2 separate regions of the Homo sapiens genome follow, and region 1 is linked to region 2. Evidence: fine-mapped expression QTL. A gene starts in region 2. The other region holds a variant in brackets. All regions are shown on one strand. Distances are from middle to middle.

Region 1 (5,391 bases), 24 kb after region 2:
AATATCTCAATAAAAACATTTTTTAAATAAAAACAATTCCCAAAGGCCTGGAAATTCAGAAACATAATTCAAAATAATTTATGGATCAAAAAATAAATCATATAAAGATCTGAGAACTACAATGTAAAAATATAGAAAAAAGTCATAACAATATTAGAAAAAAATTTGAGCTGGATAACAAAAATAGTACACATAAAAATTTGTGGCATGAAGAAAAATGGTACTTAGGAAATTTATAAAATGCCTATATGCAACATATAATTGACACAGGACTAGTATCTCGAATGTATTTATAGGATATGCAGAAAATAGAAGAAAGATCTGAAACTATCATAGCAATCAAACCCACAAATCTAGACTTAAGAAAATCATAGAGTAAACCAGCTGGATTCTTCAACCAATAAACTGCAAGAGAAAAAAAAGGGAATAAAGAGGGAACTTACAGACTAAAAGCAACTTAAAAGACATCAATCGATTATTATGTTTAAACTTTATTTGGATCTGATTCAATACAAAGTATAAAAAATAATTAAAACATTTGAGTACTTGATTGGATATCAATGAAGACTAGTGAAAAAAAATAATGATCTTTTCAATAACCAGTGCTAAACTGGATAGCCATATGAAGGAAAAAAATGAAACCTAATCTCTACCTCACATTCTACACAAAAGCCAATTTCAGATGAATTATAGACCTAAATCAGCCAAAAAACAGGCCAGGCAGACATGGTGGCTCACACCTGTAATCCCAGCACTCTGGGAGGCCAAGGCAGGATGATCACTTGAGCCCAGGCATTCGAAACCAGCCTCGGCAACACAGTGAAATCTGGTCTCTTCAAAAAATAAAAAATTTGCTGGGCATGGTGGTGCATGGCTATAGTCCCAGCTCAGAAGGCTGAGGTGGAAGGATCACTTGGGCCAGGGAGGCTGAGGCTGCAGTGAGCTGTGATTGTGCCACTGCACTCCAGCTTTGGAGACACAACAAGACTCTTAAAAAAAAAAAAAAAAAAAAAAAAAAGCAAAAGCCATGAAGCTTTTAAGAAGATTACATGATTACATACAAGAAAATCTTCATGATCTTGGAGTAATGAATGACTCCTTTAATACAAAATATAAAACAATAGACAGAGGAAAGGTCTAAATAGGACATTAAAATTACAAATGTTCATGAAGAATGGAACAATAAGCCGCAGAATGGGAGAGTATATATATTCAATACATGTAAATTGACAAAGGACTAGTATGCTGAACATATGAAGAACTGAAATTATTAAGAAAAAGAAAAGGCAATTAGAAAAATAAGCAAAAGACTAGAACAGGCATGTCATAAAATGCTCTACCTCATTTAAACTTAGGAACAAGCAAATTAACACCACACATATATCATTACACAGCAACAACTTGTTAAAACAGACTAGACCAGACTGGGCAACATGGTGAGACCCTGTCTCTACAAAAAATACAAAAGTTAGCCAGGTGTGGTGGCATGTGCCTGTGGTCCCAGTTACTTGGGAGGCTGAGGCAGGAGGATTGCTTGAGCCTGCAAGGCTAAGGCTGCAGTGAGTCATGTTTGTACCACTGCTCTCCAGCCTGGGCAGCAAAGTGAGGCCCTGTCTCAAAGGAAAAAAAAACATTAACAAAAACAAAAACAACAACTTATACTGACCACACCAACTGTAGGTGAAAATTTGGAATACTAGAAATACATTCTGTTGCTATGAACATTCTTATGCTTTAGATCATTCCAAACTGTTTTTCCAGTAACTGTACACTTTTCTCCTATGGAAACACTAATCTGTACAATCACTTTAGAAAACAGTTTGTCATTATTCTATCCTAATATCCAGCTATTCCTCTTCTGGATATATACCTTAGACTCTAGGACCTAGCAAAACAAATGAACATGTACAAGAATGTCCTTAGAAGAATTTTATAATAGCATCGAACTGTACACAATCCAAATATCAATTAGCAGCAGAATAGTTAGTGGGATGTTCATAAATACATCCTATATAAAAATTAAAATTAATGAATTCAATATGCACAAAAGCATGGCTATAAAAAATCAACACATGAAAAATACAGCAAAATGTATATAAAGTTCGTTAATAAAAACCATATTAATTAAAAATACATAAACTAAATGATATTATTTGCATAAATAGCTGAGAACACTCTAAAACACACGAAGGAAAAGATTATCACCAAAGTCTATTTTGTGATTATTTCTGGGGGAAAGAAGTGGGTTGTGATTGGGAGACTGCATATAGGAAGTTCTTAAGGGTCTGTAAATGATCTTTCTACAATTGAGTTGTGGTTAAGTGAATGTTAACTTTACAACTGCACATTGAAGTGTACATATTTTATGTATTTTTATATAATTATGCTTATCTCAACAACCACACACACTGTACACATTAAACACACACACACATATTTTTATATAATTATGCTTATCTCAACAACCACACACACTGTACACATTACACACACACACACACACACACACACACACA[A/CACACAA]GCATAGGTTGATTTTTCCATCAAAATTTGAACTGTTATCTTCAGGTAGTAAATTTTACACATTTTTATTTTTAATAATAGGAGTAAATACCTTCCCACAACAATATAATGAACATTACAGGAAAATTAAGGCAACTTATTATTTACAGAATGCCTTTCTGTGCAAAACAGGACACTATACTCTTCCTACACATTAAAGCATTAAAGATTAAAATAACTCTAAAAGGTACTTATTATCAGTGTCTTTACTGAGGCAATTACCAGTGTTCAGATAAATAAATGTCAGAGCTAATCCAAATATGAAACTTGAAATTTTCCCACCATTCTATACAAATTCCCACAGCAAACAGAGGAGGTTATTATTTTAGATAAGTCAGGGAAAGACTTTGCAGAGGAAGTAACATTTCTGAGATGGAGAAAACTAGGAGAGGAACAGGTTGGAGAACAGGAATCAAAAGCTGTTTTTGGTCAAGAGATGCCTACTAGACATTCAAGTGGAAATGTAAAGCAGGTAAAAGGTTAGAGCTTACAGAAGAGGTTCAAGTCAGTGAGAGCTGTTTTTGAAAAATATTAATGACTCAGATAATTCTCAAGAACAAAATTTCTCCCATATTTGAGAATTTATACTGATTCAATTCTTAAGCATACCGTAAATAGGTTCAAATAAATAAAACAGGTTTGAATTTATTCCTCCTATGGGTATACTCCAGTAACACAATTTGCCAGTATACATTAATATGTGATAAACTCTAATCATAACATTCTACATGTTCTTGGCTTCAGATTAAAATAACTGATTAATTTTATAATGTTTTACAATTTTAAAAATTTTTATTAGAGGTAGGGTCTTACTCTGTCATCCAAGCTGGAGTGCACTGGTGCAATCATAGCTCACTACAGCCTCAAACTTCCAGGTTCACGCGATCCTCCTCTCTCAGCCTCCTAAGTAGCTGGGACTACAGGCAGGAGCCAAGGCCTCAACCTAATATGCCCCAAAGTTGATACAAATTTTATTAGAAAAACAAACTTTTTGTAAGTCTAACAGGTAAAGGAACAAAGAATCAGATCTATTTTTCTTATAGCTTCCTTACTCTTCCCTTCCCTCTTTTATTCTTTATCACCTAAAAGCTTGGTCACCAGTAAGTTGAAAAGGTTAAAATATGGCTATGAAAGTAGAAAATATAGAAAAATATTTAAGATGTTCAACAGTAATTTTTAGAGTAAAGTTAGTTAAGCACTAGAGTTTATGCAACACTGTAAAATACAAGTATTTTACTAACTACACTGGAAAAAACACCTACTTGCAATTTTAATTAATCATTATAATTCAAAAACAGGTTTATATAACTGGCCAGGCCCTTTTGAAAATATAAGTACAAATCTTGGGGATATGTTTTGAAGCTGGCTTCGCTTCACAGACTGATAAATCTACTGTCCAAAAGTCACAAGAATTATGTCTTTATTGGTTCATCTTAGAATTAAATCAACATGGAATATGTACTTTTTGAATTAAACAAAATGTTTTGATAAAAATGAGATACGTGTGTATAAAAGCTGGAAAACTCATGTCCCCTGAAACTTGGTTTCCACCAGATGAGTTTCAAATTCAGATACTAAACACACATGAAGAAATAATCAAATGAATTCTATTCATCCTTTCCCCAAAGTTTTGCTTACAATTAAGATATAGGTATTATTTGTATGCCGAACAAACAAAATAAATTGGAAGATGTTTGGATAAACAGGGAAGTGAACACTTCAGGAACTACTATTTGCAGTTTGCAGGACAGGATAATCTTCTCTAGGAAGAATAATGTCAACATAGCAGCACTATATTCACCAGGATTCCCCAGAGCCGATGGTCCGATCATGTGGCAGGAAGCCAAATCTTCTGGCTGCTCACAATATCAATCAGCTTCCCTTTAATCTTCAGGAAGTGTCTCTTGAACTCCAATCCATCACCCTATATTAGAAATAGTATTAAAAAATTATGTCAAAACAAAAACAAAAACAAAATTCTGTCCTAAAATCAATCTCTTTGTAGTGGTAACAAGAGACAAACATCTTTAGGTATGTCTAGCTACCATTTTCTTTTCGGTCTGTTTATGAAGACCAAATATCCTGGAAGAGAAAATTGTTACACAAATAATTCTGATGTGGTTTCATGCCCATCACTGTTCCTACTGCACTGAGCTCAGAGAGCAGATAAACATGGCATCCTATCTGTTTCAGGTGTTGGTATATCTGGACCTAAGTCATTACATTCCATAGGCAGTGAGGGTTTGGAAACTAACAATAAACTATACAACTAAACTGAAGTCTTGTTGTCATAACACTACTGACCAAAATCAATAGATTTAGTTATGAGAAGAATTTCATTATACTACGATCTTAATTTAATTCTGTAGCAAGCATCTGAAAAACAGTATTGCAGCAAATCTCTAATACAAAGAGTACTGCGGCAAATGCTCTAACACAGCAGCTACCCCTCCAACCCTCTTTAGAGCCACATACAATCTCTCAGAAAATAGAGAAAAATGTTATTTTGGTTTTATATATCAAGGGCTGTAATACTATCATCTTAGAATCAATGATTTCTAAAGAAATCATCAGAAATATGAACAAAAAAATCTATGCATAAAATAGCAATCACAGAATTATTATAACTGGTAAAGGTTCATTAAATTATAATGAAATATTTGTAACAAATCATAATTTTTATTAAAAGACATAAATTAAGAAAAATATTAAAATGCTTCGAAATATTAATGTGATCACTGAAAATTTAGAATTATTTTTATTTTCTCATTTTTTGCTTATCTACATTTTTCACAAAAGCAGAAATTTCTTTTTTTTGAGACAGAGTCTCTTGTAT
Region 2 (5,391 bases):
AGAAAGCTTCCTCAACCTGGTTTCAGAGGCCAAAGCTTTCCAATACCAGACGGTGATATACCTAAGGGGACTGGAAAATGAGATCTAGGCAGGACTGGAGACAGCACTTGTGGGACCCAGTGCAACGCAAAAATGAGGCGCCTTTGTTAGAAAGTGACGAAGAATTTCCAGAGATTGAAAGCAAAGCAAGAAACCAGGGCCCTTTTGAGTGTGGGCCCATGCGCCTGCTCAGGAAGCCAGCCCTGGGTGTAGGATAGTTGTATAATAGGGAGCAGTTAAGCTCCTATCTAGGTCTTAATGCACACACATATTAAAAAGACTTCTCCATCATCCCCTGAAGCTATTTTAAATAAGGCATTGATTATCTAGGCTTTCCAAATAGGTATTTCTGCCCTCCACCCTGAAGATTTTCAGTATAGAAAGTTTCAAACATATACAAAAGTAGAGAGTACCCGCATGTACCCATCACACAGCTTCAACAATCATGCACACAGGACCAATCTTATTTTATCTTCTTTTTTTTTTTTTTGAGACAGAGTTTCTTTCTTGTTGCCCAGGCTGGAATGCAATGGCACAGTCTCAGCTCACTGAAACCTCCACCTCCCAGGTTCAAGCGATTCTCCTGCCTTCGCCTCCCAAGTAGCTGGAATTGCAGGTGCCCGCCACCATGCCCGACTAATTTTTTTGTATTTTTAGTAGAGATGGGGTTTCACCATGTTGGCCAGGCTGGTCTTGAACTCCTGACCTCAGGTGATCTGCTCGCCTCAGCCTTCCAAAGTGCTAGGATCACAGGCACAAGCCACTGTGTCCAGTCTTATTTTATCTTCTTTCCCCGTTCATTGCTACAATCCCTCATTTAGGTTATTTTGAAGCAAATTTACATAGGGAATTTTTAAAAACAATTGTTTTCAGCTGAAAGCATCAGCTCTCCAGAGCCCACTGTCTGTCTTTCTATGTTCTAAGTTAGGGTGGAATAGATAGCACCTCTTCCCTTCTACTAATTTCCACTGCTTCTATCAACAAAAGTCAGACCCAAGGCTCATAGCTGTTCTTCCAAACTCATCCTGGAGGAAAAGAATTATTGATAGCATGCTCTTTCATACCTTTCTCTACTGTAAAGGAACCTGCCTGAGGCTCAGAAATCCTAGCTTTATCCTCTAACTCAAGTCAAGTAACTTTTGATCCCTGGTGATCTTGCTGTCTTCAACTAACCCAGAACCTTAATCCAGATTCTCTTCTATAGATTCTCTTACATGATTCTCTATAAATTCTCCTCTATGAGGCAGAGAGAGGCCCCAAAAGGTAACTCATTCCTTCCTTCCTTCAGGAAAAGCTTAGGCATGCTGCTAGGTACTGGGACTACAACAATAGTCAAGACAGGGTCTCTGCATTCAAGCTTAGAGTCCAACGGGGAGTACAAACATGAAACAAATAATTATAACAGTGATAAAGTGTTAGTCCAAACTGCACCATTTCGTAACCCCCACCGACCCCCGCCATTTTGCAGACCTTGGCTAAAGTGAAGCATTCCACGGGGGTTTGGGCCCTTAGAAACAGCCTGTCCAACTGCCTCCCTGACTTTATCACACTCTGCTGGGAAAAAGTCCAAGGAACATCAGCATCACATTCTGCGGGAACAAGGGCCAAAATGCCTCATTATGGGAACATCTTCCCAGGCAGCAAGCCATACTGCCCAGACCCGTCCTGCTCATACCTACAAGTACCCCAACCTGTACGAAGCAGTGGGCACTGGCATTAAGCTAGTCCCCCACCTCTGTAGGTCTTATGCTAGACAGAAAGCCTGGATTTGATGTAGAGCCGCCACTCTCTCTTTCTTTAACCCTCACCTTCCTTTCAAAATGTAACAATAAGTACATCTATTCTAGATTTAGCATTCAGTGGTATATAAAACAAAGTTGTTCAAGAGAGCTGAGCAGAGAAGCAGCGAGAAATGGAAGCTACCAGATCTTTGCCACTCAATCCTCCATAAGTTCTAGTTTTATATCAGGTGGATGCCTCACTGCATCCATCTTCTCAGCTTGGCCACCCCCTTGCTACCAAGTTGCAGCTCAAAACGCAGCTTTCTACTGTCTCTTGATCTCTTTACTCTGCCCATATCTGTGTAAACTCTCCTCAGTTACCCATTTGAGTTTGCCACCTGTTTCCTGCTAAAACCATGTTGATAAAGGTCTGTATGAAAAGACTATTTACAGAAGTGGGCAAGGTTAAGGAAACAAACAAACAAAAAAAGAGATAAGTTTGGGCATCCAGATTTTAGTAACAGCAGGAAACCATTATCATCCCTAGGCCTAAGAGGGCAGGGGGAGAAAAACATATTACCATAGCATGGATGAGAGCTGGAGCCATGGAAGAGAGGACACCCAACAGAAGCTCTGTCATGTAGACTCAGCCAGTGTCAACTGTGGCAGGAAGGGAATAGGAAGAACAAATATTCCAGTCTCGCTCTCTTTCTCCCCATTCCTCCCTTCCCTCTTCCTCTCTCTCTTTCTCTCTTCTCCCCTCCAATCCTGTATAAACCCAATCTGAAGCCAAATCCAGCCAGCATTCAGGTGATAAAGTCAACAGAGGTCAACCTTCCAGGGTACAGATCAGAGCCAAGAAAGGCTGATTTAGAAAGCCAAACAGAAAACAATCAACAATTACATCTCATTGTCAAAAACACTTTTAAAAGACAGTAGATATCTTTTAAACTTTATTACAAAAAATATGTGCTTTTTGGTAATACTTTTTTTTTTTTTTTAAAGATAGGGCAGATAGCCCCAACACACTACCCTGCACACAGAAAATAATCATTGGTCTTCACTAGTGAAATAAGCAGTGGGTTGCTAAGGGCCAACTTGCCTGAACAGGCTACACAAGAACCTCAGAGCCCAACCCATTGTGAAGAAACATGGGTTACTTCTGAGGTTCTAGAATTCCCAGAAGCTCTGCTTCAGCACTGGAAGCTTTTGCTCGCAGTTTGCTTCATAGCTCTGTGAAGAAGCTGTGGCCCACACTGGGGTCCCCTCTTTTCCTAAATCCAGATGAACAGGTTTCTCTTGCTAATGAGTCTTTATCTGCTTGGATCTGCCAGAGGTGAGTGTTTGATCTAGGCTTCAGGTAAATACAAAAGGGGTCTCCCTTAAGACATTTCAGGCCTTGAAGAAGGAAGACCAGTCTCTCAGTCACCCAAACCAATCTGAGTCAGAATCAAGAGCAGCTAAACAAGTCCAACTCGGAGAGCTCCTGAACCAGTTGATTTCTCTAGTCATAGCTTTACAGTCAGAGGGTCCCACTGGCTTGGCACAGTCTGGTTTCTACTTATTTTAGCCACTCAACATTTATACCTGATGCTGCATGAGATGAAAAAGTAGGCTTAGGGGTTCTGTAGAAGCCCAATGAAGGTTTGTCCCACCAATTAAATGTGAGGGATCCTTGTGTGGTTAATGTGCCAAGGAAAGATGGGAGATGGGAAGATGTAATGTGTTCAGAAAACAACCTCAGAACACGACAGAGCTATAGGCCAGAGACTTCATAAGCCTCTTCTTCATGGCTGTGTTATATCAATCAGGTTTTCTGTATCATCTCTTCTTTTGGGATCCCCCATTCATGGTGTGCTGTGTTCCCTCCTGCCTCCTACAGCAGAAAGAGGCCATGAGCTCTGAGCTTTCAGTGAAAAAACAATGTATTTTCTATAATGTCGACTGTCAGAGGTTTTGCTTTTTGCTTTGTTAGACCTTCAAAAGTTGACTCAAAAATGTAGATACACAGCCACCAGGTGATAGTATGTGCCAGTCACATGGTGACACGAGTCATAAACTATAAGATCAAGAAATTAGCATGCTTTTTATGTCTCCTTTCTATATCAGAAACATCTCTTTATCAAAACTTGTGTTAATTATTGAAAAACCAGTCAAGTAGATAGTATTTATGTAATAAGTTTAAAAAATAAAAACCTCCTAAAAGCTTTACTAAATCTTACCTTTCCTTTATCAACATATTCTCACCCTAGTCATTTAGAAAGTCACTGATTGTAAGTACTGCACTGTGCCAAGAAAATATATCTATCGCAAGATTCTTAGAGTTTTGAGTACTCTGGGGTTTTAGACTACCTCAGCCTCAAAGATCCAATAATTCCTCTCAGCTTTTGGCTAGAATTAAATAACTTGGTTGTTGTAGTCTACTTGTCTTCCTCTAGGTGGCTCAGTTTAATCAAAGAGTAATAATCAAATTATCTGTTTTGTGCTTCTGTTCACTTAAAATATACTTAAGGAATATTTGTCTGACAGTCAATGATGAGATGGATTGGCCAGACACAGTGGCTCATGCCTGTAATCCCAGCATTTTGGGAGGCTGAGGCGGGCGGATCACTTGAGGTCAGGAGTTCAAGACCAGCCTGGCCAACATGGCGAGACCCTGTCTCTACTAAAAATACAAAAATTAGCCAGGTATGGTGGCATGCACCTGTAATCCCAGCTACTCGGGAGGCAGAGGCAGGAGGATCACTTGAACCCGGGAGGCGGAGGTTGCAGTGAGCCAAGATTGTGCCACTGTACTCCAGCCTGGGCAACAGAGCGAGACTCTATCTTTGAAACAAAAAAAAAAAAAGAAAGAGACGGATTAAAGGTAGAAGAGACTGGCCAGAAAAAAATAACCATGTAAGAGTTTTGTAATTCCCAGTGTAAGGTGGGAAGAAAAGAAAAATAAAATTGAGTACTAGGCAATGGTGCACTTCACAATTTATCTTATTAAGTACTCAGGACAACTCCATGAAGTGAATGTAAATGGTATGTCACAAGGATACAATTCATATATGTGTGTGTGTCTATATATATATATATATATAATATGCCTAGACTTTTTTTTTTTTACCTTAATAGCTTATAGCAACTTTGCTCTCTGAATCCCCAACCCACATGGATTGGGGATTGAGTGTGAGAAAATACTTGACATTACCAAATACAGGCGGCTTAATCCCTTCTGATAATTTTTGTGGGCTCATACTTGTCATCCCTGTCCAAAGGTTAACTCTTCCGCCCTTAATTTAGGTTACAAATACTCAGGTATTGAAAACTACTTGCTTTCTCTCTCCCTCTTCTATCTCTACTCTTCTTGTCTTTCACCCATAGAGGAATGGGAGGGTTGGTGGCGAACTTCTGATTCTATCAGGGATGGTATCCTGACTTCCTGATGCTGACTTTGTCAGGGAGGCACATTCATTTTCCTTCAGGGGTTTTTTGTACATGGATGAGTGGATTCTCCTAAGTAGTTCTTAATATTGGGGAACTTAAGATTCTTCCCTTCAATCCCAGAGGTGGCCTCTGTTTGTTTCACTAAACACTTCTGTCCTCCATGGCCTTTTGGGATACTTAGTTGATTTTTCCCAACATC

Which allele goes with the higher level. Positions count from the first base shown, and alleles are read on the strand shown. Sizes are in standard deviations (SD) of each study's normalised expression.
For the expression in lymphoblastoid cells of the gene that starts at base 2,978 in region 2, CACACAA is the high allele of the variant in region 1 and A is the other (moderate effect, 0.42 SD a copy in GEUVADIS).

Evidence for each region. PIP is the estimated chance that this variant, and not a neighbour inherited with it, causes the effect. A credible set is the group of variants that fine-mapping cannot tell apart.
Region 1: its variant is the best candidate, but not a certain one, in a credible set for the expression of ACRV1 in lymphoblastoid cells (GEUVADIS, PIP 0.73).

The regions. Positions count from the first base shown.
Region 1 is chr11:125,654,313-125,659,703 of GRCh38, reverse strand. It overlaps CHEK1 (checkpoint kinase 1), which reads right to left. Exons shown (of 13, transcript NM_001114122.3): 13 at 2,557-4,479. The coding sequence ends at 4,384. Among named protein-coding and RNA genes, the nearest start is that of ACRV1, 24 kb to the left of the region's middle. The variant A/CACACAA (reference allele first, on the strand shown) is at 2,517.
Region 2 is chr11:125,678,434-125,683,824 of GRCh38, reverse strand. ACRV1 (acrosomal vesicle protein 1) reads left to right here and starts at 2,978. Exons shown (of 4, transcript NM_001612.6): 1 at 2,978-3,096. The coding sequence starts at 3,045. It overlaps LOC105369551 (a long non-coding RNA gene), which reads right to left and starts at 506. Exons shown (of 2, transcript XR_007062934.1): 1 at 1-506. It also overlaps a transcript of CHEK1 not described here.